Homo sapiens: one gene and its partners. The protein of the gene in region 1 interacts with the protein of each later gene in a biochemical or structural test. Each region holds a gene or a part of one and is shown in the gene's direction. Other genes may lie near its edges. The genes, in order: ARHGEF2, MARK2, MARK3 and ROR1.

Region 1 (7,711 bases):
TTTTTCTTCATTTCCAGCATTACCTCCATCTCCTCATGTCTTCTTTTTCTCTATGCAGCTGCAGCCAGCTGGAAGGACATTCAGGTACCCGGGTAGGCTCCTCCCTGCGACAGACCTTCAGCTTCCTCTCGGGCATGACCGGAAAGGCCAAGGTAGGAGTCAGCTGGGGAAGCAGGAGGCTTGGGACCCACTGCCCTCTCCAGTTCCCTTTCTCCCATCCCACCATCGCCACCTCCCACCACTCCCCCTATTAGAAACTCAGAGCAATGGTTCCATTTTTTATTTTTTTATTTTTTTAAGAGAGGGGGTTTCTGTCTCCCAGGCTGGAGTACAATGGCACAATCATAGCTCACTGCAGCCTCTAACTCTTGGGCCCAGGAAATCCTCTTGCCTTTACCTCCCAAAGTGCAGGGATTACAGGTGTGAGCCACTGTGCCCAGCCAAATGCTTCAAATTTTAAGGAAACACATGCTATCTCTTCCAGCCTGTGTCTCTGTGTCCCAGTAAATCACCTTTTCTCTGCTTTCCCCTACGCATCCAGCTTAGCAGTCAGCTGTGGACAGATGGAAGGGGAAAAGGGCCAGGAACCTCAGAAGCTGAGGAATGGCCTAGCCCTCCCTCTCTTTAGGCCTCACATAGCTGACAGGTGGGCAGCGGAAACCTCAACCATTGGACATAATAATGATAATAATTACAGCACTACTTTTTACTTCTTCATAGAGTATCAGGGTTTGCAAAGTGCTTTTACACTCATAATTTTATGGGTGGGTACAGCAGCTGAAGGAGTTGAAATTAGACCACAGGCAGAGTAGAAGCTGGGAAAGTATATGATTATGGAAGCACATGCATACCCGTACATGTGCGGCCATGTGCTGTTCTGATCCCAGGAAGTGAAGGCACATTGTTCTCATCCTTATTACCAACCGTTGGGCTCTGGTGAAACCGGGAGCTCTGCCTGCTCCTTGAATTTGTTTCCACTTTCTTCATTTACTGTCAGAGTGAGCCGCCCCCCTTTTCCTCCCCTGGCCTCCCCAAGTATGCATGTGCTTTCCAACTCGGGGCGGCTTCTGAGTATTGAAAGAAACCCCAGGGAAATCATCATCATATTCACCTTGAAGAGCCATGAGATTCTCACCAGTAAGGTTGCCTGGGCTCCTCCCAGCCCCACCCGCAGTGCCAGGGTTCTCCCCTCTTCCAGCCTTTTTTTAGCCAAGATTCCCTTTTCTCTGGGTGGGCTGGGAAGGTCAAGATGAAAGCAGGTCATGTTGTTAGCACCTCTCACCACAGGCCATGGGTCGGGAGTTGAGGCTAATGGAGGCATGAGACTGGGTGAGTCTCAGAAGAGGAGCAGCTGGAGAATCTGAAAGCTGATGGGAGGGGAGGGCAGGTGGGACAGAGAGGTTTCTCTCCCATGGGGGAATGGAGATCTCGAAGGAACAAAGCAAAAGCAGAAACCTTGGGGTCTGAGTCTCACCTTCCTACAGGCTGTCTCACTGCAGGGTAGGGGAGTCTGCTAGTGGAATCACTCCCTTTTCTTGCCATGGGAATGGTAGGGGAAGTCAGTACTGCCCAGGGGCCATCCAGATCCCGGTTGGTCTGTTTGTCCACCCTTGACCTAACAGTCTGATGGAGGGTTGAGCAACCTGGTGAAGGGGAATGAGGGCAGAGACTCTGGAGCCCAGATGGGAAAGAGGGAAGCGCCAGAGTGAGTCAGGACATTGCCTCGCTCAGCCTTTCCTCCCCACGTCTGTCATCCTGTCTTCCTCTGTTTCCCTCTCCACCATCTCCTGCTACATCTTCCTTCCACCTTCATGAATGTGTGGGCCTGCTTCACTTAATCTCTTTCTCCATAAGCAGTAAACATCAGGGGGTGGGGCTGGAGAGAAGCTCAGTCAAGCAGTGAGAGAAGGAAGTAGCTTAGTCCCTCCTACTTGAGTAGCATTGCACACTTGATGAAACACTTTCAACTCATTTAATTCTTATAACAATTCTGGCAAAGATAAGTATTTCAATCTCAATTCTACAGACAAATACTTAAAGGTTAGTTACTTTGCCCAAGATCTCACAGCTCATAAGAGGTGGCGCCGTATTAGAAACTCAGGGCTTTGGCTGTGTATTGCCACTGTTTCTCTCAATAGCCGTAACACAACAGTTCATTCCCTCTCATCCTTCCCTTCTTCCAGCTTCTGGCTGGATGGCCACTTAAGGCAATTTGGCCTTAATCACCTCCTCCCAGAATATACAAGGTCCAGACCAATAGAAGAAAGAAGAAAAACAAACCACCTTGGGACAGTGTAGAGCTTGGGCTTGGGTATCCTCGGGAGACCCATCTCTTCTCCAACTGGCCGAGACTTTGGCAACCAGGTTCTTCCCTGGGACCTCCTCCCTACCCCTGAAATGGGAGGGACACATTTCGTCAAGTTAAATGGGCTAAAGAAGGTGATGGCTATTTTTAGATCCTGGTAGAAATGTTTGTTTCTGTGTATCTAAAAAATTATTTCTGAAAATCTGGAAGATATCACTGGATAGGAGTAGAGGGGGCGCTGGAATGAAGAAGGGTCTTGGAAAAGGGGGGCAGGTGACACCAAGGAGAAGGGAAAAGTGTTCATTGTTCAAGAGGATATAGAAAACGGAAACTGAGTCAAGCTGCAGGCCAAGCTCACTAAACACAGGTGTTTTTAAAGGCAGAACACTTTTCTTTTCCCTGTCCCTAGTCCCTTTCCTTGTTATTCATCTCCTAAGGGGAAGAAGAGGGCATAGGGTGAGGGGTAGGGTAACAGCAGGTGGGATGGAAAGTAGACTGAAGGTTGGGGTGGGAGACAGAAAAGAGTTGGAGGGTCGGGTCCTCTTCTTTCATAGAGACCTTCTTAGTTGAGTTGAGGGACCATGAGGTCGCTTGAAAAACCCCAGGGTTCAAATTCTATGTTTCCTGGGTACCCAGGCTGGAGTGTGGCCCTTTAAGATTCTATCCATAGCTTGCAGCACCCTCCTGCCCCAGGCCTGGGAGAGAAGCTGAGGTCCCACCCCAGATCTTGTCTCTGGGCCTCCAGTGGGTGGAACCTTGAGGCCAAGATTCTAGCCTCTGGCTGTCTGTTTTTAAATTTAGTACATTCCTGAGTCTTGGCTGCCCACCTCAGGGGAGGTGAGTCTGGAGTTCTGGGGCCAGGAGCCTCAGGCCTCTTGGTTTGGGGGAGTTCCTACACCCTCCCCGTAGGTATACTTGGCAGGTGCAAGCCAGGAAGAACAAGCTGTGGCCCTGGGGAAGTCCTTCCTGCTTTCTAATGTCCATCCAGCCTGAACTGGGCACGGTTTATTTCCTCTTCCTTTTTCCTGGTCTTTGCTATTTAAGGATTCTAAACAGGGGAATGGGTGAAGAAGGAGGTGAAGGAGTTGCTAGGAAGGAGGGGAAGCCGGAGGGGCAGTGTGGGGGTAGTGCTGGGGGTGAGGAGCCCAACCAGCTCAGCCAGTGGTGAGGTAGTGGAGCCCAAAAATAGTGGCAGAGGCTAAAATTGGCACCTACAAGAGTGCTGAGTTGGGCTTGAAACCTGCAGCCTGGCCCCACTGCTGAGCCAGGGCAGAGAACTGCTGGATCTGGGTTGGGTCTCCCCTCCCTCCCTTCTTCTCCCACGCCCTTTGGGGCCAGAATCAGGCAGGACCCTGCTAACCGAAGGCTCTGTCCCAGGCCTCTCTGTGCTTCTGGTTTCTCCAGAGAAATGGGAGACCCTGAGAGGCAGAAATGAACTTCACTGTAAGTGATCATAGTTAGACTGGAGGAGGAATTTTCCCAATAGCAGGAAACTCACCCAAAGGCTGGCTCAGGCTGGGGAAAAGGGTCCAGAGAGATGAATGCCCCACCTTACCCTGCTTCTTGGGGAGAGGCTGGTTGGGCCCTAACTTTCTTTGACTAGGGCAGGCTGGTTTCTGGTCTTTCAGTTCCGGCTTAACTTGCAACAGAGAGAACTGCAGTTAGACACATGGAAGGCCTTCGGTAAAAGTGGAGAATCCCAACCTAGTCCCCCAAAGTAGCTGGCAGAGGCGGAGCTAGGAGGAGGGCAGAGTGGGGTCAGGAAGGCCCCAGAAGGGTGGGGCATGTGGGAGAATTCTCTCCTCTCTGTTCTTCGACCTCTGGGAGTGAATCCTACCCTTCCCGTGTACTGAAGATCCAGCGTTTAGTTCTCCTTTGATTTCCTCTCCCTCTGGCCACCCCTGCCCCCAATCGTAAAAGGGGTCAGTCTGCTCAGGCCTGCTTTGATGGGACCCCGAAGGCCAGGAAGGAACTGGTCCTGGGTTTTCTAAGAGCTGGGGGCGGATGGAATTCTCCTGCCTGCGGGTCTTTAAAGACTGAGGTAACGCAGTAGGGGAGGGAAAAAGGGAGGGCGAGGGGAGAAGGGAAGAAGGGGAGGGCAGAGGGGAAAGGGCCAACCTGGGTCCGGCGAGGGCTGCGGGGCTGGGTTTTAGGAAAAGAAGAGCTAAGAGGCGGGTCTCTGGGGCTAGAGGGCGCCCCCAGGCGCTGGAGGGGAAATAGGCAGAGGGGCCTCTCAAACCTGTCCTAGGACCCTCGTACCTCTCCGAGCTGCCCCCACACAAACCCTGGCGTCCCGTCCTGCGCGCGGGCACCCCGCCCTCCCTCCGCTCCGCCTACCCCCTTCCTGAGCTTGGGCGGGGGAGGAGACTCGGGTTTGAGGAACTGGTGCTGGGTGCCGGGCGAGGGGAGTCAGACTTCCTGTCCCCGAGACCAACGCGTGCGGGCCGAACCCCTCCCCCCGCCTTCCCCCAACAATACAGGACGCCGGGGTCCGCGCCGCGTCCTCCCTGGTCCCCCCGTCCGATTATGTCTCGGATCGAATCCCTCACGCGGGCGCGGATCGACCGGAGCAGAGAGCTGGCGAGCAAGGTGGGCTCGGAAACCCCTCTCCTTTCGCCGCGGTCCTCGGGTGCTCCCCGAACCCCGGCACCCGCGGTGCATCTCCTGTCTCCCCGCCTGCTTTCTGGGCGCCAAAATCGGGCGGAGCGGTGGATCGGCGAGCGGCGGGACGGGGTGGGTGGGGACTGCGAGCGAGTGGGTAGGGGTGGGGGGAGCGGCAGACGCGACGGTGCTGGGATCCCGGGAGGGAGCGGAGCGGACCTGGGCTTGGTCGCCTCCAAGCCGGCGGGACCGAGTGCTTTAGGCCGCTTGAAAGAAAGTTGCTCCGGTAAGGGACGGAGCGGGAAGAGGGAGGTGTGTGTCTCGCGGGTGGGGGCGGTGGAAGCTCCGGCACCTCCTCTCACCCCGGGCCCCACCGGCTTGGGCTTGGCGTGGCGACCCCCCATCACTCCCCAATCGCTGGCTTGGTCGTTCCCCCTTTGTCCCCGCCATCCGGCGGAGGGGACGGGAGGGGGTGGTTTCCCGGCTTCCTCCCACCACCACCACCACCCCTCCAAGACAAAAGTCAGCTCCTCCTCTCCTCGCAAATGGACTTTCCAGCTGTGATTCAGTTCTCCCCTCTGGGTGGGCGGGTGGCTGGGGTCGGGACGGCCGAGGGACGGCTTACTTCCCCCAAACCATCACCTCTAGGTGAAGGGAGCAGAGGTCTTTGTGTAGCTGGGCTCCTTTCCTCCATCCTGAGCCCTTCTGCCTGGAACATAGGGCCTCCATCCCTATCTGCCCCGCCAGCCTCCTAGCTCTTCCTTCTCCCAACCTGAAACCCTTAGGCTGACACACCTGGCACTATGCATTGTGTTCCCTGCCCTTCCTCCTCCTCCCCCAGCGCTCTCATTCTCTTATCTGCTCGTCTTGGGGTCCCTTCACCTAGCATTTCATGAGTCTGGGTGTATAATTATCCACACGCCTCCCCCATCATGACCTCTTGGCCACTCCTCTCCAAGTACCCTTTATCCCTGCCTTTGTACCCAGCCCCATTCCCAAGTGCCCTGACCTTTCCACACCCAGACCCCAGGAAATGATGAAGCTGACTTGCAGGTGAATAAGTCAGAGCTGAAAGGAAGGTGGTGCCTGCAGACAGCACCTCCCAGCTCCTTTGGGGCCCCCGCACTGTACCCATTATCAGAAAGGACAGGTCCCAGCCCAGAGTTGGTTTAATCTCTGGCTTCTCTCCAACCTGAGTGCCCTACTACCCTGGTGCCAGCCTATGCTGATCACCAACTTCAGCCAAGGGAGCAGTACCCCTTAGGAGTCCTTAAGGGTGATGGAAAGCCCTCCCCTCCACCTCCCTGGTAGTTCCTAGCCAGGCTACCTGTCTTGATGCTAAACTGGGAGAGACAGAGGTTCCATCCTGGGTTGGGGGTGGAGGGCCAGGGAAAGCAGCTTTAAAAGGACTTTCCTTAGGGGGTTGGGATTAGATTTTGCTATCTGGAAAGCAACTGGGGATTCGAGTAGGGCCTAAGACAAACAGAGGGCCGGGGTGAGGTGGCTGAAGTGTGGTGGAACAGTGGGGTGGCAGACAGGCTCTTCACAGCCTGCGCCAGCCCAGGCCCCAGCTCCAAAAGTCTGTTTATTTTTTCAACCGTTTGAGCTGAGACCCTGGAGTAGAGCCAAGGGGGGCGGGGGAGGTTTTTTGAAACCGCAGAAATTTGGTTCCACCCTAAAAAGGAAAGCCATGGGGGAGCTGGTTGGGGGAAGACCTGGCTAGGGGGTATAGAGAGCGGTTCTGTGGGGGCAGGTAGCTACTGGGATCCCTTTTCCATTATTGTGGGGAGCTGGGACGTCAGACATCTGGGTGTTCATGCTCTGTTTTTGTTTTTGTTTTTGGTGGTGGGGGGACTGGCTCTTCTTTCTACTATGGGGGCTGGCTGTGTGGGGCAGGTAATTTGGGAATCTGGCTGGCAGCAGGGAGTCGGGGGCTGAGTGGGTGGATCTGAGAGGGCAAAGAGGCCACCGGAGAAGGGTGGTTGTCAGTTTGGGCCGGTCGGAAGGGGAGGGCCACCTCCGGAAAACTGTGGTTACAGAAGGGGGAGTTGGTTCTTAGCCAACAAACCCTGGATCCCCTCTCCCCCTCCCCCCAGCACACCAGCTGTCTCCTTTCTTTTTATACTGTGGTGGGAAGTAGAGGGGCACCCGCTGGAAAAGACATTATTTGAAGAAGATGGTGTCCCCTGCTACCTCCTTGGGGGGATGGGTCACAGCTAAGCCCTGACACCTCAGCCCCTCCCCATTCCTTGCCTCATTCCCTGGGAGCTCCTCCTAGGAGGAGGAATGTAAGTTTAACCTGCCCCTTTCTCTGTCCCATCCTCACAGGATCTCTCTGTGTAGCCCCCTCCATGCTTCCTTTTTCTTTTCACTCCATTTCTGTTCTCCCAGGCTGTCTTCAGTCCTCCACCTCCTCTGTTCTCTCTGCTCTACTTCCTACCTCCACAAGCCCCAAACCTCACAGGTCCCCTTTCTCTCTTTAGTCCCCTGTTCTTCCCTTTCTCCTTTCCCAAACCCCAACCATCATATCCCTTAGAACAAAGGGTCCTTTTCTGCCAAGCAGGGACCAGAGGTCCAGGGATGGCTGTGGAGGCTGGGGGTCCCCTTGGAATCTCTGTGGTGGGCAGGTGGAGTGGGGAGTGTGCAGAGCGACTATTTCTTTGTTCTGAGGAATGGAGAGGTGGCTGGCTTTGTGTGCAGGACTAGGAGTGCAGTGGAGAGGAGAGCTGGGGGAGCCCAGGAGGGAGCTGAGAGGGCTGACGGTGTTGGAGGAGAGTGGAAGAATGGGGGGTCCTCCTGGTGGCT
Region 2 (7,039 bases), on another chromosome or scaffold:
TGTTGTTCTCAGGGTAGCCAGTCACTGTATCGATTTAATATTAAGTCTCATTCCAGTAAAAGCAGGGACTTTGGAAAACCTTGGATGCACCTATTCCAGACAGATTCCTGTATTCTTTTTTTTTTTTTTTTTTGAGATAGAGTCTCGTTCTGTCGCCAGGCTGGAGTGCAGTGGCACAATCTTGGCTCACTGCAATCTCCGCCTCCTGGGTTCAAGCGATTCCCCTGCCTCAGCCTCCTGAGTAGCTGGGACTACAGGCACACACCGCCACGCCCGGCTAATTTTTTGGATTTTAGTAGAGACAGCGTTTCACCATGTTGTCCAGGATGGTCTCAGTCTCCTGTCCTCGTGATCCGGCCTCCCAAAGTGCTGGGATTACAGGTGTGAGCCACTGCGCCGGGCCTGATTCCTGTATTCTTTAAAACGGGAAAAAAGACAAGCAGCAGCTCCTCAGGTCACAAGGCCAGGTATATCAAACACTGGCCTCCGAGAATAGATCATGCCACCAAGTGAAAGAAACCTCTTCTTGGTCCTGTTGTGATTTTAGATAAAGTAGTCATGGAAGCTTGGTCATTACTATAGTCTTAATGTTATTTTTTTTAAAAAGGGGATTTAGTTGGGCTGATTTCCTCCCCTAAAGGTCCTCTGTCACCTTATTTAAATTTAAAACTGGTTTTACCAGAAAATAGGTAAACAAACACCACTGGTTGTCTCCAGTCTCTTTTCTTGCTCTTCCTCTCCCTCTTCTTTAAAAATGTGGCTGATGAGAACCTGTTTCCAGGAGCCCTTTAATCACTCTGAAACACACAGACACTGAAAATGTTGAAGCATAAAAATAAACCTTGCGTTACAGGGAGATTGCCTGTGTGCTGTCCACTTCGCTTATAACAGTGAAAGTAGGAGATTAAAAAAAAAAAAAAGTTAAGCCCTGTCTTTAAGATGGTTTTTGTGACACCTGATTCCAGATGTGCTTTTTCACAGCCATAGACTTCCTGCTTTTGCAGAAGGAGGGTTCTAATCTGGGGCTCGTAGCTTGGGGGATTCTTAGTTTGTGAGCTGAGCTTTTTGTTCACTTCTTTTCCAAATGACTCTGCTGGCCTGAAGCTTGGCAGTTGTGAAAGCAATCAGCAAGATGACTGTTTGTCTTCCAGCCAGCAGCAGCAGTCACAGGCAAGCCTGGAGAAAGGTCCAGCTTCCAGAGTTCACCTGCTAGAGTTTTCCATAACACCTGGGGGAGAGGCTACTCCATCTGGGACCTGCCCCACCTCTGGGCCTCAGAAACTATGAGAGAGGGATTGAGAGAAAACTTGCCCCACTTCTGCTGCAGTGGGAAGGGAGGGGGCTGCTGTCAGGCTTCTAGGCAGTGAGCGGCATTGTTTATTCTCTCAGTTCTAGGAAGGGGAGTTTAGAAGTACTGGTGAAGAAAACAAAGTTACAAGATCCTATAAGGAACAGCTGAACTACTCCAAACACTCTCACTGGACCCCCATTGTTGATTCTGGATAAAAATATATATATATATAAAACTCTTTTTTTTTTTGACACAGAGTCTTGCTCTGTCGCCCAGGCTGGAGTGTAGCGATGCGATCTCGGCTCACTGCAACCTCCGCCTCCCGGGTCAAGCGATTCTCCTGCCTCAGCCTCCTGGGAGTAGCTGGGACTACAGGCGCCCACCACCATGCTGGCTAATTTTTGTATTTTTAGTAGAGACGGGGTTTTGCCATATTGGCCAAGCTGGTCTCGATCTCCTGACCTCAGGTGATCTGCTGGATAAATATTTTTTTTTTGCTTTTGGTGTAACTTAGGTAGATTGGATCGGCTAGCTAGCATCTCAGTCCACACTCTGAGCTGTGCAGCAGTGTGCCCTGGTGCTAATTCTCACTCTGTCCTTTGATTCTGGCCAGGGGGTCCTTGGTGGTGCTGCCTTCTGGTCAGGAATGTGGGTGAATGTCAGACCAAATAGTGTCACTTTCGGCTTGGCCCTAGAGATCAGGAAGGAAGTGTTGTTAGAGCAAGGGCTTTGGGAGTCCTTGGAGTTCGTAACCTTTGAATCTGAAAAGTAACTGTACCTAGTAAATTAGAATAATTTCTCTCTGGTCAGGCACCATGGCTCATGCCTGTAGTCCTAGCACTTTGGGAAGCCAAGGCAGGAGGATTGCTTGAGGCCAGGAGTTCAAGACCAGCCTGATCAATAAAGTGAGACTCCATCTCTACAAAAAAATTTTTTTAAATTTAGCTGGGCATGGTGGCACATGCCTGTGGTTGCAGCTACACAGAAGGCTGAGGCAGGAGGATGGCTTGAGCTGGGGAGGTCGAGACTGCATTGAGCTGTGTTTGTGCCACTGCACTTCAGCCTGGGTGACAGAGCAAGACACTATCTCAGAAAAAAAAAATTACTTTTCTCCAATTTATGGACTTCGGAAAGTAGCTAAACAGATGGATATAAGACAGTTGTTGAAACTCGGCCTGCTGCAGATTAAAATAAAGTTTGCACAAGGATAACTTAATCTTTCAGACCAACCAAAGTTTGGGCTGGAGATTTTTCTCAGCATAAATGTCCTAAGCAGAGTTGGTGCCTATGAGGTAGGAAAAGATTGAGACTTTGCTTGCCTAAGAGGTTTGCAGGGTTCGAGCTTTTGGGAGTCAGAACTTCTCAGACTAGATTGTTTCCCCTTTGGACAGAACAACCCAATTCTCAGTGGGCATTTGATCAGGACTAACCCAGGCCTTCATGAACTCTTTCCCATTGAGCACTTAGCCACCTGGCTGGCATTTCTCTTCTCCCAGGAGCTTCCATGAGGTTCCTACTTATGTATTATGTCGACTTGAATGAATATTTTATGTCTAGAGTGCAGCCAAGCCTCAGACTTTGTGGCCCATTATCGACAAATGGGGTAGGGGGTGGGCGCCACCTTTGGCCCCGTGATAGCTTCTCTGCTAAATGGACTCCCCCCAGCAGCACTTTGAAGCCCATTAATGGATTGGAATGAAGTAACCTCAGCAGATGGAAAGGGTGAGGAGGGTGGTCATCTTCCTTCCCTGAGACTGCCTGATGAGGCTTTCCTACAGTAACCAGGACAAGCCCCTATTCCCTCTGCTTGGTTAAGCTGTGGACTGGAGCTACTAGGCCTCTGCTTTGAGAGGAAGTATAGAAAGGATTTGATTCTCTTTTAGCCATGGTGGGGCCGCCAGTTTCCCCACTTTCCCATCAAAGCAAAAATTGAGAAGGATGTGGAAAGGGTGGGTGGAGTTTAAAGCTGGCCCTTCCTCCTTCAGTGGAAGTTCAGCAAAATGACAAACCAGATAGGTGGCTAAATTTCCTTCTCTTGATGGGAGATTCCAGTATTTGTACGTTTTGTGCTTGTAGCTTGGATTCTCCAGGCCTCCTCCCAGCTTTCATCAAACATGAGTGAGTCACTGAAGTGTTGTCTATGCATTTTCTCCCTTCTGTCTCTGCAAAGGGAAGAGTAAGCCTTTACAAACCTGTGGGGGAGGAAGTCACCCTCTTCCCACTGCTGGAGAGCCAGGCTATCCCCAGGTTAACCCTGAAAGTGCTAACTCCTGAGCAGAATGTTACTGCCACCCGCCCCCTTCCTTTTTGTTATAGGCCATTGAAGGTCATTGCTCGTCTTTTTTTTTGAGACAGTCTTGCTCTGGTCACCCAGGCTGGAGTGCAGTGGCAGGATCTCAGCTCACTGCAACCTCCACCTACTGGGTTCAAGCGATTCTCATGCCTCAGTCTTCCAAATAACCAGGATTACAGGTGCGCACCTCCATGCCTGGCCACTTTTTGTATTTTTAGTAGAGATAGGGTTTCACCATGTTGGCCAGGCTGGTCTTGAACTCCTGGACTCAAGTGATCCGCCTGCCGTGGCCTCTCAAAGTACTGGGATTACAGGAGTGAGCCACCGCGCCCGGCATCATTGCTTATCTTTTAGACTGAGATAGTACAGCTGATTCTAAACAGCACCCAGAGAGAATCTGGCCTCTTGATTTCCAGTTGTGTCTCAGAGGAGGAGGCATCCCAGTTCCTCCTCTTGCCCTCTAGACATCTCCTCCTCTGATAAGTATAAATAGGCTAGATCCCTTTATCTTCATATCTGTTTTTGTCTGGAATGTTTCAAGTTTCTCAAGCTAGGTGTGGTGGCTCATATCTGTAATCCCAGCACTTCGGGAGGCCACGGCAGGAGGATCACTTGAGCCCAGGAGTTCAAGACCAGCCTGAGCAACATAGTGAGACCTCATTTCTACAAAAAAAAAATTTTTTTTTTGAGACGGAGTCTTGCTCTGTTGCCCAGGCTGGAGTGCAGTGGTGCGATCTCAGCTCACTGCAACCTCCGCCTCCCGGATTCAAGTGATTCTCCTGTCTCAGCCTCTTGAATAGCTGAGATTACAGGTGTACGCCACTGTACCCCGCTAATTTTTGTATTTTTAGTAGAGATGGGGTTTCACCATGTTGGTCAGGCTGGCCTTGAACTCATGACCTCGTGATCTGCCTCAGCCTCCCAAAGTGCTAGGATTATAGGCATGAGTCACCCCGCCTGGCCAAAAAAAATTTTTTTTTTTTTTTTGAGACGTTGTCTTGCCCTGTCGCCCAGGCTGGAGTGCAGTGGCACGATCTCGGCTCACTGCAAGGTCCGCCTCCCGGATTCACGCCATTCTCCTGCCTCAGCCTCCCGAGTAGCTGGGACTACAGGTGCCCGCCACCACACCCGGCTAATTTTTTTGTATTTTCAGTAGAGACGGGGTTTCACCTTGTTAGCCAGGATGGTCTCGATCTTCTGACCTCGTGATCCACCCACCTCGGCCTCCCAAAGTGCTGGGATTACAGGCGGGAGCCACCGCGCCCAGCCCAAAAAAATTTTTAAAAAGTTACCTGGGTGTGGTAGCACATGCGTGTATCCCACCTACTCAGAAGGCTGAGATGTGAGGATCACTTGAGCCTGGGAAGTTGAGGCTGCAGTGAGCTGTGATCATGCCACTGCATTCCAGCCTGGGCAACAGAGTGAGACCCCATCTCAAGATAAATAAGGTTTGTCAGTCCCTGTGGTGGTTCTTTCCGCAGATGTCTGTCTTTGGGTTGGCACTTATTTCCCCCTACTTGCAGTTATTCCTTACATTTCTCATTAGAAAATGGCAAAAAGGGCAAAAGTAAATTCATTTCCTTTTTACACCAAATCATTAATTTTAGGCTTATAAAACTAAATGAACAGAAGATTTGGTAGGAGAGGAGGGGAGATGGACACTGATACTGGTGGCTAGGTGATCCTGAGGGACAACTGGTGCCTGGCAGAAAGAGAGGAGGGCTGTGTTCAGTGACTGGCTCCCAGCCACCTTTTTGGCCTTTTTCTTTTTAACATGAGGAAGGCGGAGCAGACCAGGGGCTTCTCTGTAGAACCAGTCAAGCTGGTTTTGGGCAGCCTTGGCCTATTTTCTTGTGTGCTCTTTGGGAAGTTGGCAATACAAAGGTCTGCCTCCTTTGGGGCTGTGTTCGTTGAGGCGAAAGTTTGGAAGACAACTATCTGTCAACAACCCCCTTCTCCCCAAACACTGAATGGGTCTCTGAGCTGGTCCTTCACTCCAGGGAGGAGGCTTTCTCTCCACCCTATGCTGAACCTGAAGGCAGCTTTGCTTTATACACCTTTCACTGAAAGCTCTAAGACATTAACTCCTTTTTTGGACTCCCTTCCCAATTCACAACTTGGTGAAAGACCCTCAGCCTAGCCAGGAGGAAGGGACTGGGTCTGCCTTTGGCTCCTCATTTATGGGTCTGGGAGGGGATCAGGACTCCTTACTGCTATGATCTGGCTGCTAAATTCAGTGACATCCCAGGCCTTTTTTCGTCCACGCAATGGGACTGTCTGTCCAGGCCTGCTGGGAAAGAAAAGAGAGAAAAAATAGTTTTTGCTCTTTGGCAGCTTACAGGGACTTCAGCCATAGGAAACAACCTGTAGGAAAGGTGGGAGCTTCCGGTCACCATGTGTGCTGACACTTCCTGCAATAGCACTAGGAAGTCTTTCTCAGGGAGCAAGGCCAGCCAGGTAGGATTATTTCCCAGTCTCCCAGCTAAGCAGGAAATGCCAAAATATGAACGTTTAGTAATTAGTGAGTGTAACTACCTGCTGACAGAGCTCCAGCCTAGACCTTGTCCTTGGGGGCTGGTTGCCCCTGTTGATACTACAGTGAGCTACTCATTGCTTCTGATTACCATTTCAGTATGAGTTTTGCTTTGGTTTCTGATATCCCATGTGCGGCTGCCTTTTTTCTCCACCTTCTTTTTGTTGTGTCTTTTTGTTTTTTTGAGACGGAGTCTTGCTCTGTTGCCCAGGCTGGAGTACAGTGGCACAATCTCAGCTCACTGCAACCTCCGCTTCCCAGGTTCAAGCAATTCTGCCTTAGCCTCCCAAGTAGCTGGTACTACAGGCATGTGCCAGCACACCCGGCTAATTTTTTTTTTTTTTTTTTTGAGACAGGGTCTCGCTCTGTCGCCCAGGCTGGAGTGCAGTGGCGCGATCTCAGCTCACTGCAAGCTCTGCCTCCCGGGTTCACACCATTCTCCTGCCTCAGCCTCCCGAGTAGCTGGGACTTCAGGCGCCCACCACCATGCCCAGCTAATTTTTTGTACTTTTTTTTTTTTTAAAGTAGAGATGAGGTTTCACCATGTTAGCCAGGATGGTCTCAATCTCCTGACCTCATGATCCACCCACCTCGGCCTCCCAAAGTGCTGGGATTACAGGCGTGAGCCACCGTGCCCGGCTGTAACACCTGGCTAATTTTTGTATTTTTAGTAGAGATGGGATTTCACCATGTTGGCCAGGATGGTCTCGATCTCCTGACCTCGTGATCCGCCCGCCTCGGCTTCCCAAAGTGCTGAGATTGCAGGCGTGAGCCACCGCGCCTGACCTTGTTGGTGTTTTTAAGAGACAGGGTCTCACCCTGTCACCCAGGCTAGTATGCAGTGGTGTGATCATAGCCCACTGCGGCCTCAAATAGCTCCTAGGCTCAAGTGATTCTCCCACCTTAGCTTCCAGAGTACTGG
Region 3 (3,956 bases), on another chromosome or scaffold:
CATTTGTGTTTGTGTTCAAAGCACGGCGAGGCCTTCAGCCTTCCTGCCTGGGCGTTAACAGCCTTTGGAGGTCTGGGTTGGGTAGCAGTGCTCAGAGAAATAAGCCCTCAGTTCATCACTGACCCCTCACATGGTTCTCTTCACAAGGAATAAAAGCAAAGTACTTAATAGAATGTCCATATTTCAAACTAGATATGTTTTCTTCTAAGAATGGTGATTATATAGTTGAGTGTTTTGCTTTTCTTTTTTTTTTTTCTGAGACACGGTGTCGCTCTGTCACCCAGTCTGGAGTGTAGTGGCGTGATCAGGGCTTACTCGAGTTCCCAGGCTTATGCGATCCTCCCACCTCAGCCTCCTGAGTATCTGGAACCACAGGCACTGCCACCATGCTGGCTAATTTTTGTATTTTCTGTAGAGATGGGGGTCTCGCCATGTTGGCCGGGCTGGTCTCAAACTCCTAGGCTCAAGTGAACCTCCCACCTCAACCTCCCAAAGTGCTGGGATGACAGACATGAGCCCCCGCACCCAGCCTTGCTTTTCCATTTTGTATAGTTATCATTGCATGGATTTGAGGGGAGGCAATCACCAGGTAGCCTTAGGACTCTATGTCCCTTGTTCTAGGTCTCTTCCACTTGTGCCCTTTTTTTATGCCAGTCACCAGCAGGCTATTTCAGGTCCTCATTCACCGTTTGTCCTTTTGGTCTTTCTAAAAGCCCGCTTCTGGTCATATGACCTTTCTGAATTAAAACCTTCAGTGACCTCCACTATTTCACCTGGCCACGTCCCTGCGAGGCCCTGAGTGGCGTGGTCCAGGCTGCCCCAGCAGCCCCAGCTCTGCTGCCCCATCAAGGCAGAGCACTAGGGTGAGTGCCAGGCAGCATTCCCTCTCCAGGCCTACCCATCCCAGCCAGGAGCAGGCTCTAGATCCTGGTTTGTTTCCCCACCCATAATAGGAAGGTGACATAATAGGACCTACGTGGGCATCAAGTAAGTTGGGGCCTGACCACCACAAGTGCTCATTAAGTGCCACCAGCTGTTGTGGGGGTGATGACACTGTGCCTCCAGTTCCACTCAGTCTGTGTACTTTATTATGCCACAGACACATCCTGTACTTTCCTACCTCCCCTTTGGCTGTGATCCCCTCTACTCAAAACAAACACTCTTCCCTATCTTCATTGCATTTTGTTGAAATCCCATGGCTCTTCATAGCTCTCCTCAGATGCAGGCCCACCCCCACCCGTGCTGTTTCCTCCTTGTCTCATCCTGCCTGTCACGTTCTCCTGCTCGGCGGGCTCCACCTCTTCTGCTGCCCTCTAGGAGATGGCCAGCCTTTCCTGTGCTGCCACTGTTGTCTCACCTTACAGTCTTCCTGGCTCCAGATGAGTTTGAGAGCTTTTGCTTATCTTTGTAACCCATTTAGTATCTAACGTGGCATTTTATACATAGGAAGCTTCTCTCATCAGTATTGGTGGATGTGAACCAAATTGAATACTGGCAGGTTGGTGACACGGAGAGCTATGTGCATATGCAAAAGCTGTAGCCCCTCACCTCTGGTTAGTTGGCCATAGGATGGAGTGTACTTAAGGTACATAGACTATTTTACTCCCAAGAATGCTAGGCACTCACTGTCTTAATTGAGGCCACCAGATACACACATGAGAATATAAATAACGGCTTGTGGCAATAATGACTAAATGCCAAGGAGTGGCTGGTAAACCGCGGTGTTCCCTAGAGACCCCGGCCTGGGCTCTACTTAGGCTGCCTCTTGGACATCAGACCAAGGCTTACATTCTGAATCCACAGGGCATCCACATGGGTGGTGTCAGTCCCCCACAGACAGAGAAGTGTCCCGTTGCATTTTTCCATCTATTCCAGTAGTAAGATTGTGTCATTTGAGATTTTCTTTAACTGTATAATTGGACGTTTAATTAACAAACCAGAGAGGAGGAAAAACAATGAGGTGGGTAGAGCATCATGTTCAGCCTCAGGGCTGTACAGCAAAGCAATTTTAGACTGCGGATGTTGAGTCTCCAGTTACCCTGAGTGCCAGTTACAGTGATTCACATCTGAAAGAACAGTACTGCAGGAGAGGGACAGCCCAGGGTGGATGGGTGGGGTGGGCAGGAGCTGGCTGGCAACTCCTTCCCTGAGCTGGGCCTGCAGAGCCCTGAGGAGTGGGGCATGCTGTCCTTTTTGCCTGATTTCCAAGGATTCTGCTTAACGAATTACTTCGTTCATTTTAGTAAGCACAGGTGGCTGGTGAAGATTTTCCAGCTAGGTAGATCTTTTTGTGTGTGGCTTATGACTTTTAGGGGGTGAGGGAAGAAAATAGACGAAAATAGACTTAGTTACAAATGTGAGTCTGTGCAGGAAAATGTGGAGGTCAGTCGTTAGTTGTGTTGTATCAAAGACGTGAATGAGGAACTAGCTGAAGTGTAAGAGGTTGATTTTCCTGTACGATTAAAAATAAACCTGCCTCTATGCATTTCAGTCGCAATGTATCTGCTGAGCAAAAAGATGAAAACAAAGAAGCAAAGCCTCGATCCCTACGCTTCACCTGGAGCATGAAAACCACTAGTTCAATGGATCCCGGGGACATGATGCGGGAAATCCGCAAAGTGTTGGACGCCAATAACTGCGACTATGAGCAGAGGGAGCGCTTCTTGCTCTTCTGCGTCCACGGAGATGGGCACGCGGAGAACCTCGTGCAGTGGGAAATGGAAGTGTGCAAGCTGCCAAGACTGTCTCTGAACGGGGTCCGGTTTAAGCGGATATCGGGGACATCCATAGCCTTCAAAAATATTGCTTCCAAAATTGCCAATGAGCTAAAGCTGTAACCCAGTGATTATGATGTAAATTAAGTAGCAATTAAAGTGTTTTCCTGAACACTGATGGAAATGTATAGAATAATATTTAGGCAATAACGTCTGCATCTTCTAAATCATGAAATTAAAGTCTGAGGACGAGAGCACGCCTGGGAGCGAAAGCTGGCCTTTTTTCTACGAATGCACTACATTAAAGATGTGCAACCTATGCGCCCCCTGCCCTACTTCCGTTACCCTGAGAGTCGGTGTGTGGCCCCATCTCCATGTGCCTCCCGTCTGGGTGGGTGTGAGAGTGGACGGTATGTGTGTGAAGTGGTGTATATGGAAGCATCTCCCTACACTGGCAGCCAGTCATTACTAGTACCTCTGCGGGAGATCATCCGGTGCTAAAACATTACAGTTGCCAAGGAGGAAAATACTGAATGACTGCTAAGAATTAACCTTAAGACCAGTTCATAGTTAATACAGGTTTACAGTTCATGCCTGTGGTTTTGTGTTTGTTGTTTTGTGTTTTTTTAGTGCAAAAGGTTTAAATTTATAGTTGTGAACATTGCTTGTGTGTGTTTTTCTAAGTAGATTCACAAGATAATTAAAAATTCACTTTTTCTCAGTAAAATCTTGCATTGTCTCCTAATGCTGTATTTAACACATCCTCAAGTTGAGCAGAAGTAATGTGTATGAAGGCTTGGGGCCACGTGGACCTTCGCAGGGGTCCCAGCATTTTGTGATTACCAGCATATTTTTTCTCCCAAGGCAATAAAGAGAGAAGATGGCCCTCATGGTGACCCAAGAAGGAAGGGAATCCAGAGCAGCTGCAGCTTAACCCTGGGAGTTGTGGCACAGCCCTATGGAGAAACACCAGGTCTTGACAGTTCTGGGTTGGTTCTCTGTGAAGTATGTAAATTTCCTTTCTCCTTTCTTGTGATTCAGTACATGAATCAGACCTGCAGCTTTTGTCCAACACCTACATGGTTGTGTAGGGGTAATGAGCTCATAACTCATTGTGTTGCTTTATTCTCACAGGGAAGTTGTCACACTGATTGGTGTGCTATTCTGGGTTCTGGGTTTGTTGTTGGTCAGAGTATGAAAGTCTGGAGGCCGGACACAGTGGCTCACACCTGTGAACCCAGC
Region 4 (7,578 bases), about 92 Mb from region 1:
ATATTGCCCAGGCTGGTCTCAAACTCCTAGGCTCAAGAGATCCTCTCACCTTAGTCTCCCTAGTAGCTGGGATTATAGGCACAAGTCACCATGCCCAGCTCCCCAAACACTGTTTTGTGACTTTTGTATTCAAAGTATAAAGTACATTATTTTATACTAAAAATGACTTTATATGATTGGTTCTATTATCTGTCTCTCTCTCCTTTTAGCAGGTGAGAATGTTGTATCATAAAGAAATTAAACAACTTGTTCAGGTCATCTAGCCAGCTCCGTTTGATGTTAGAGTCCATTCTCTCTCTCTTTTTTTTTTTGAGATGGAGTCTCGCTCTGTCGCCCAGGCTGGAGTGCAGTGGTGCAATCTCGGCCTACTGCAAGCTCTTCCTCCTGGGTTTACACCATTCTCCTGCCTCAGCCTCCTAAGTAGCTGGGATTACAGGCACACACCACCATGCCTGGCTAATTTTTCTATTTTTTTGTTTTTAGTAGAGATGGGGTTTCACTATGTTGGTCAGGCAGGTCTCGAACTCCTGACCTCGTGATCCGCCTGCTTCGGCCTCCCAAAGTGCTGGGATTACAGGCGTGAGCCACTACGCCCAGCCCGAGTCCATTCTCTTAATCACTAACAATAGTAGCTAATAAATATTGGCTGCTTACTGTGTAACTGGTACTATGTTAAATTCTTTACAGGTATTAACTAATTTAATCTTCAGAACAAAGCTACAGGTAGGTATTATTATTATGCCTCTTTACAGATGAAGAAACTAAAATACAGGGACCCAGTACTCACAACTATTAAGAGCAGAGCAGGATTTGAATCCATGCAGTCTGGCTCCTGAACTCTTCCTGGTAAGCATCACACTACACCGTTTCTCCAAGAATAATTAATGGTTGTATTTGTTGGGTAAATCAAGCGGATGGCCCAAATGAGTCTCTCCCACCAGCAAGTTTTTGAAATGAAAGATAGTTTTCTATTTAATGCTCCCCTTGGCACCTGACCCCAATGATTTACTATTGCCCTGCTCTTGTTCCATTTTCCCACTATGCCTTACAGTGATAATAAACAGAACCGTGTGTGCCAGTGCAAGAGGCCAGGGGAGATGAGTGCCTCTGTAAGTAGCAGGAGCCTCAGCCAGTACCTCAGGTTGTGCCAGGCCCCTGGGAAGTGAGTAGCTTCACCTGGGTTCTCTTATCCATTTGTGTCAACTTCTGGCTTCCTAAAAGAGAGGGCATGGCCAAAAGAGGCTTGTGAGAGGAACATTTAGATTGCTTGGAGCTTTTATCATAGCCCACCAGGGGTTTGAGACAGTGGTGTATAGTGTAGAGAGATATTTGACTTGGGATGGAGTCCTGCCTTTTTGCTTTAATTTTTTGACTCTGGGCAAGTTTTAAAAACTCACTTCACTTAGCCCATTTGTTAAAAATGGGCTAAGACCAACCTTATTTTGATGATATAAGTAGGTTCATGCAGTAAATAATAATAACGATAATATCTGCCATTTATTAGGTGTCTCTCTGTGCCAGATACTCATAAAAGCACTTTCTAAGAGTTAACTCAATTAACACTAACCACAGCATGAAATAGGTGCTATTATTATCATCATCATTTTACAGGTGAGAAACAAAAGTACAGGCAACTAAGATATTTGTCCATAGTCACTCAGCAGAAACCAGAGAAGCTGAAGCTTGAGACCAAGCAGCCCAGCTCCCCAGCCTGTGCTCTTAAACATTGGCATTTACTGAACTTGCATAAATAAATAAATATACATATACACATATATATATTTTGCATATTATATATATTTTACCTCTTTTACTTTTTTAAACAGGAAAAGCCTTTTCTAACACCCCCCCACCCCAGCATTTTTTTTTTTTTTTTGAGATGGAGTCTTGCTCTGTTGCCCAGGCTAGAGTGCAGTGACGCTATATCCACTCACTGCAACCTCTGCCTCTCAGGCTCAAGTAATTCTCATGCCTCAGCCTCCCGAGTAGCAGGGATTACAGGTGTGTCACCACGTCTGGCTAATATTTTGTATTTTTTTGTAGAGATGGAGTTTCACCATGTTGGCCAGGACGGTCTCGAACTCCTGATCTCAAGCAATTCACCCACCTTGGCCTCCCAAAGTGTTGGGATTACAGGCATGAGCAACCGTGCCAGGCCATTGCTAACCTTTTCTTTGGAAACTTGTGTGCTATAGCTAAACTGAAGGAATCTGGGATGATTTGATGATGGTCCTTACCCAGGTCTGGACTGGTAGGTCTAGGTCCTAGTTTTGGCTCTGGCCAGCTTTGGGCAAGGCGGTTTCACTCTCCTAAGTCCCACATGTCTCCTGTATAAAATGTTGAGGGGGGTGTACTAGTTAATTTCCAAAGCCCTTTCCAGGTCTCACATTCCTTATGTCTATGATTCTGTGATTAAGTTCCTGGAAGTTTAAGTACTGATAAAAGTGCCATTAAGTTCTGTATACTCAGCACTAGCAGCTGTCTGTTACCTAAGATACCTGGGCCTAGGAGTTATAGGGTGGGGGCTGGGGGCAGGGTGGGTGGATGAGAAAGGCTCCTTGTCTGACAACTGTGTGTATTGACTGTAGACAACAGAGGACTGCCCAGCACTGTGCAGTGTAACTGAGTATCCTCTGATTTCTGGGCTGTGATATACTAAGACTGACCATCAAAGACTGTTTCCCAACAAGAGAACCTTGTGCAGTAAGTTCCTCAGGCAAGAAGCGAGATAATTGGGACAGGATTGAATAGATCTCAGGCAGAGAAACTTGGGGGACAGATCAATGTAGGTAATGAACTGGTTGACCCAAGGCCTCTCTGTCTATCATTTTTTGACCTCAGGTCAGAGCGATAGAAAGGGGGAAAACTACCGACACAGCTCCTGCCATGAAGTCCTGGAGAAGAATAAGTGACTGTTTGTCCCGCATGGGTTAGTCATTCACCTGCCTGAAGGCAAAGGGCTGGGAGTCTGGAGTCCATGACCTGCTGGGACATACTTTGGGCTGCATTTTTTCCCCCTTCTAATGTCTCAGCTCTCAGGGATCTGCTTTTCCTGGTGCCAAGGAGTATGGATGAAATTTTGTCCCTCCTCCATGCACCCCTATAAAACAAATATGATGAGAAATTAATATTTTCCAAATGGTGACCTAACCTTTGTTCATTAATTGAGCTCCTATTGCATTCCAGGTACTGTTAGAGGCCAGCAAGATACCTAGATGATTGAGACAGAGTCCTCGCCCTCCATGAAGTGACTGTTCATTTTAAAACCCTAAAGCTGGGTTCTTAGAGGCTACTGCAACAGCAACAACTCCCGAGTGAGTGCTTATCATGTGCCAGGCTCTGGTTACAGGCTTTAACTCTCTCAGTGGAAACAGCCTGAGTGCTGGCTTGGCTACCCCATGTCTGTGAGACTGTGGGCAAGTCATTTACTTTCCCTTTGAGTTTCAATTTCTAAAACTGTAATATGGGGATAATATATGTAAAACAGCTAAGAAGTATATACTTTTAATGACTCTTTTTAGTGTCAATGGAGGATTTGTGAGCAAATGCATATAAAACACAAGGCAAACAGGAGGTATTTAGTAAGTGGCCACGTGATTATTGAGAGACTATGGGCTTCTTCCTGTTCCTCCAGAGCAAGACTGACAGGTGTCCTATTACCCTTGCATCTTCAGAGCCTAGAGCACAGCCCTGAAAACAGCAGGCGCTCACCACTTTTTATGATCAAAGGCAGTCTCTACAGGGAAAGTCAAATCATTATGGGTATTTATGAATTACAAAATCCATAAAGTTAAACCAGGAGAAATGGACAAAAACACACTCATTGTAGAGGTCTTTAATGATCCCTTGGCTCATGGCAGAGCAGCTAGACAAAAAACAAACAAACAAACAAACATGCAAAGATTCAGAAGGCCTGAAAAAATAATGAATACAAAGAAGATAAATCGATACAGTATTCTATCTTCACATTCGGAAGACAAAAACACCTTTCAAAAAACCATGGGACATTGGCAAAAATAACCACAGATAATCCTCAATAAATCTTGCCAGGAGGCAGTACAGATGACATTGAATTCAGTGAGACTACAAATTAAAGACAAAAAGGCGAAGTATAAATTACTTGTGTAAGAACTCTCTCAACTCTTGGGTCCAAGAAGAAAGCAAAAGGGAAATTGTATGATAGCAATAAATGTGCCATTACCCAGAGTCACACAGCTAACAGTGACACAGCTGAGGCTGCTAGAACCTGGGTCTACTGTCGTCCAGCCACGAACTGGCTTGAGATCCCGGATAAGTCTCTCTGAGCCTCGGTTTCCCCTTCTGTCAAGTAGCCTCGAAGGTCCCCGGCGCTCGGTTCGGTGGCGAGTTTGAGGAGTGTGGGGGAGGGGAGGGGAGGGAGCGTGCCCGAGACGCGGGAGCCGCGACCGCTTTCTGCGAAGTCGGGGAGGGTGCGGGCGTTGAGAGGCTGCAGCAGAGGGCGCTGGGTCGCCAGCCTGGGCCGCGTCTCCCATTGGTCGGGGCTGGGGCGCTGGGCTGGAGAGTTGGTGGAAAGTGACAAGTTGAGCGAGAGAGGGAGCGTGGAGAGCTGGAGCAGCCGCCACCGCCGCCGCCGAGGGAGCCCCGGGACGGCAGCCCCTGGGCGCAGGGTGCGCTGTTCTCGGAGTCCGACCCAGGGCGACTCACGCCCACTGGTGCGACCCGGACAGCCTGGGACTGACCCGCCGGCCCAGGCGAGGCTGCAGCCAGAGGGCTGGGAAGGGATCGCGCTCGCGGCATCCAGAGGCGGCCAGGCGGAGGCGAGGGAGCAGGTTAGAGGGACAAAGAGCTTTGCAGACGTCCCCGGCGTCCTGCGAGCGCCAGCGGCCGGGACGAGGCGGCCGGGAGCCCGGGAAGAGCCCGTGGATGTTCTGCGCGCGGCCTGGGAGCCGCCGCCGCCGCCGCCTCAGCGAGAGGAGGAATGCACCGGCCGCGCCGCCGCGGGACGCGCCCGCCGCTCCTGGCGCTGCTGGCCGCGCTGCTGCTGGCCGCACGCGGGGCTGCTGCCCAAGGTAAGAGGCGCCCGCCGGCCCCCGCCCGCCCAGACCCCCTGACCCGTGGCCACCCTTCCGCCGTCCAGCCGGGCGCGGGACACGCAGGAAGCGCCGCGCTGGCTCCGGGGCGCGTCCGGCCACCCGCCACGGGGCTCGCCGGCGCCGCCAGGCCAGGGTTTGCCCCGGAGCCCCGCCAGGCCAGGGTTTGCCCCGGAGCCCCGCGGCGGGCCGGGGCGCGCCCAGGGACTCGTTCCTCGGTGCGCAGCAGCGATTGTCAGCGCTGACAGGAAGCGTGGAGGGGTTTGAGGGTCCTGGGGGTGATCGGGGCACTTCTGTGCAGGGCGTCCCCCCTTGTCTCCCTGGACCTCTAGCGCGCCCCAGCCGGTGTTCAGGCAAGTCTATCCTGCCCCCAAGTTGCGAGCCGGCCCGGAAGGCGCGGTCCAGGAGGGAGTTTGGATTTTCAGTGGTGCTCGCCAGAGCCCAGGCGGCTCGCGGATCGACGCAAACAAAAGCCCTGTCCTCCTGGGGCTCCGGCGGCCTCGCATCGCCACCGCCCCCGGCCCTCCGGCCCTCCCGAGAGTCATCATAGAGGCCAAAACTTGTGCGCCGCTGCAGCCGCTGCCACTTTGTGCAAAATGTGCTGTCAGAGGCGGCCTGCGGCTCCAAAGTGCTTTGGGTGTGCACGCGCGCGCGCGCGCGTGTGTGTGTGCGTGTTACAAACAAGAGGGGGAAAAGCCATCTAATGCATATTTGATTTTGGTAATCTCTAAAGACAATCGCAACAGTTAGAGAAAGACTTCACCGCAAGCCGGAGCGTCTTAGTTCGCTGCGGGAAGCTGGGGTCCTTGCTGCGTCTGAGCCGGTACACAATGAGAGGGAAGAGCCCGGCTGAGCCTGTGGAGACAACCGATTCATTCTTTGGAGGTTGGAGGGGGAAAGTTGATTAAAGTCTCCGGGGTCTCGGGCCTCACTTTTAACATGCATCCCTTGAGGGGGTGAGGAGCCTTTGGATTCTGCCCTCCCCCACTCCCAGCCCTAAACCTGAGCGGATAAATAGATCTCTGCTCTTTTATCATGCATCTTTCATTTTTAAGTTAGCACTGTGTTTAGGAAAAGAAAAAGTTCTGCGCTACTTAGCAGTTGAGAGGAAAAAGATGTATTCACTACATAGACTACGAATGCAGAATTAGTTTTTACTAAAAGTTAGCTGACTTTCTTGGTAGAAAACACACTCTGGAAGGAAGTTGTGTGAAATTTTGATTTCTTAGAGATGGTTTTTGGAAGCTAGAGTAGCATTTTCTGAGGATGATTTCTGAAACGGATCCTATAATGTGGTCGTGCTAATCTGAAAGCTCCTGGGGGTAAATAGAGCTCCTAATTGTAATTAAGATGTGCATCAGCAGGGAGTGCACCTTCCTGATGAAAAATCCTAATGAAATGTAAACAGCTTGGTCACATAGATGTTTTGCTTGGTGATGCCAAACATCTGGCCTTGCGCCACAACACCTGGGTGAAAAGTAAAAATGGGCCATGCTGCCTAAGTAATGTAAACATCCTTCTCAAGTTGGGTTGCCCAGCAAATTGAGGTGGAGATAAGCAGGGTGATTTTAACTAAGGTGGGACTCCTGGCTTGGGGCTTTGGTTAATTCAGTTATTTCCCCTGTGGACTCCTTTACTTTGTACTTCACCTTTCAACAATAGTTGCTTTTAGATCATAGCCCCTTGTGGGGGTGGGGGTCACTTACCTTTAAATACATGTCCCTGCATTGATTTTGCTCACTGTAAACACCCTTCTTATCAGCAGCCACCCCAATTCTGTCTCCTTTAACTGTTTACAGCCTTTTAGAGTTGTTTAAAAAAGGTATTGCCTATTCCATTGTAGCAGGAGGAGCCACAGACAAAACTCCTCAGACACCCAGTGAGCAATTCCTGTCCCTTTTAAGGGCTCACAACTCTAAGGGGGTCCACGTGAGAGGGTCATGATGGGTACATGACTGGGGGCTGCATGCACTGGTAATCAGAACGAAACAGAACAGGATAGGGATTTTTACACTGTCTTTCCATACAATGTCTGGAATCTATAGATAACATAACCAGTTATGTCAGGGGTCGATCTTTAAGTACCAGGCTTAGGTCAGGCAGGCCCAGGCCTGGTTTCGGGTCTGGTTCCTTGGTTTCAGGTCTGGTTCCTAGGTGCCGGGCTACCTGCCTTTAATTTCGCTTCTCTTTCCTTTTCTGAGTATAAAACAATATAAAACAATATGAGAGGGTCTGTCTCTCTTCTCTCACCATACTCTTTAGTAATGAGCTCAAATCTGTTATTATTGTCTTATTTGTTGTTTTATAAATCCCTTTCCATTTTGTGAATGTTTGATCTTTTCTCTGGGGTCAAGACTTCTGGTAGAACTCACGTTTACTTTCTCCTCTTGGACTCAAGATTCCTAAGGTAGCCCAGCCAGTGGCTCAGGAAATCAGCTTAAGCGGAGATATGTTTCATGTATTTATTTAAAAAGATACAAAACATTTCTCCCATCATTTTTCTATTTTG

What was found.
Region 2: the proteins of ARHGEF2 (region 1) and MARK2 form a complex in vitro, tested with the Homo sapiens proteins (one study listed by BioGRID).
Region 3: of the proteins of ARHGEF2 (region 1) and MARK3, one has a biochemical effect on the other in vitro, tested with the Homo sapiens proteins (one study listed by BioGRID).
Region 4: the proteins of ARHGEF2 (region 1) and ROR1 form a complex in vitro, tested with the Homo sapiens proteins (one study listed by BioGRID).

The regions. Positions count from the first base shown.
Region 1 is NC_000001.11:155,975,548-155,983,258, reverse strand, and holds the start of ARHGEF2 (rho guanine nucleotide exchange factor 2), read left to right. Parts: upstream 1-4,711; 5' UTR 4,712-4,831; coding exon 4,832-4,894; intron 4,895-5,083; exon of another isoform or gene 5,084-5,192; intron 5,193-7,711. UniProt on the Homo sapiens protein: Activates Rho-GTPases by promoting the exchange of GDP for GTP.
Region 2 is NC_000011.10:63,842,103-63,849,141, forward strand, and holds part of MARK2 (serine/threonine-protein kinase MARK2), read left to right. Parts: intron 1-7,039. UniProt on the Homo sapiens protein: Serine/threonine-protein kinase. Involved in cell polarity and microtubule dynamics regulation. Phosphorylates CRTC2/TORC2, DCX, HDAC7, KIF13B, MAP2, MAP4 and RAB11FIP2. Phosphorylates the microtubule-associated protein MAPT/TAU.
Region 3 is NC_000014.9:103,500,391-103,504,346, forward strand, and holds the end of MARK3 (MAP/microtubule affinity-regulating kinase 3), read left to right. Parts: intron 1-2,491; coding exon 2,492-2,837; 3' UTR 2,838-3,441; downstream 3,442-3,956. UniProt on the Homo sapiens protein: Serine/threonine-protein kinase. Involved in the specific phosphorylation of microtubule-associated proteins for MAP2 and MAP4. Phosphorylates the microtubule-associated protein MAPT/TAU. Phosphorylates CDC25C on 'Ser-216'.
Region 4 is NC_000001.11:63,769,461-63,777,038, forward strand, and holds the start of ROR1 (inactive tyrosine-protein kinase transmembrane receptor ROR1 isoform 1 precursor), read left to right. Parts: upstream 1-4,556; 5' UTR 4,557-4,957; coding exon 4,958-5,048; intron 5,049-7,578. UniProt on the Homo sapiens protein: Has very low kinase activity in vitro and is unlikely to function as a tyrosine kinase in vivo. Receptor for ligand WNT5A which activate downstream NFkB signaling pathway and may result in the inhibition of WNT3A-mediated signaling.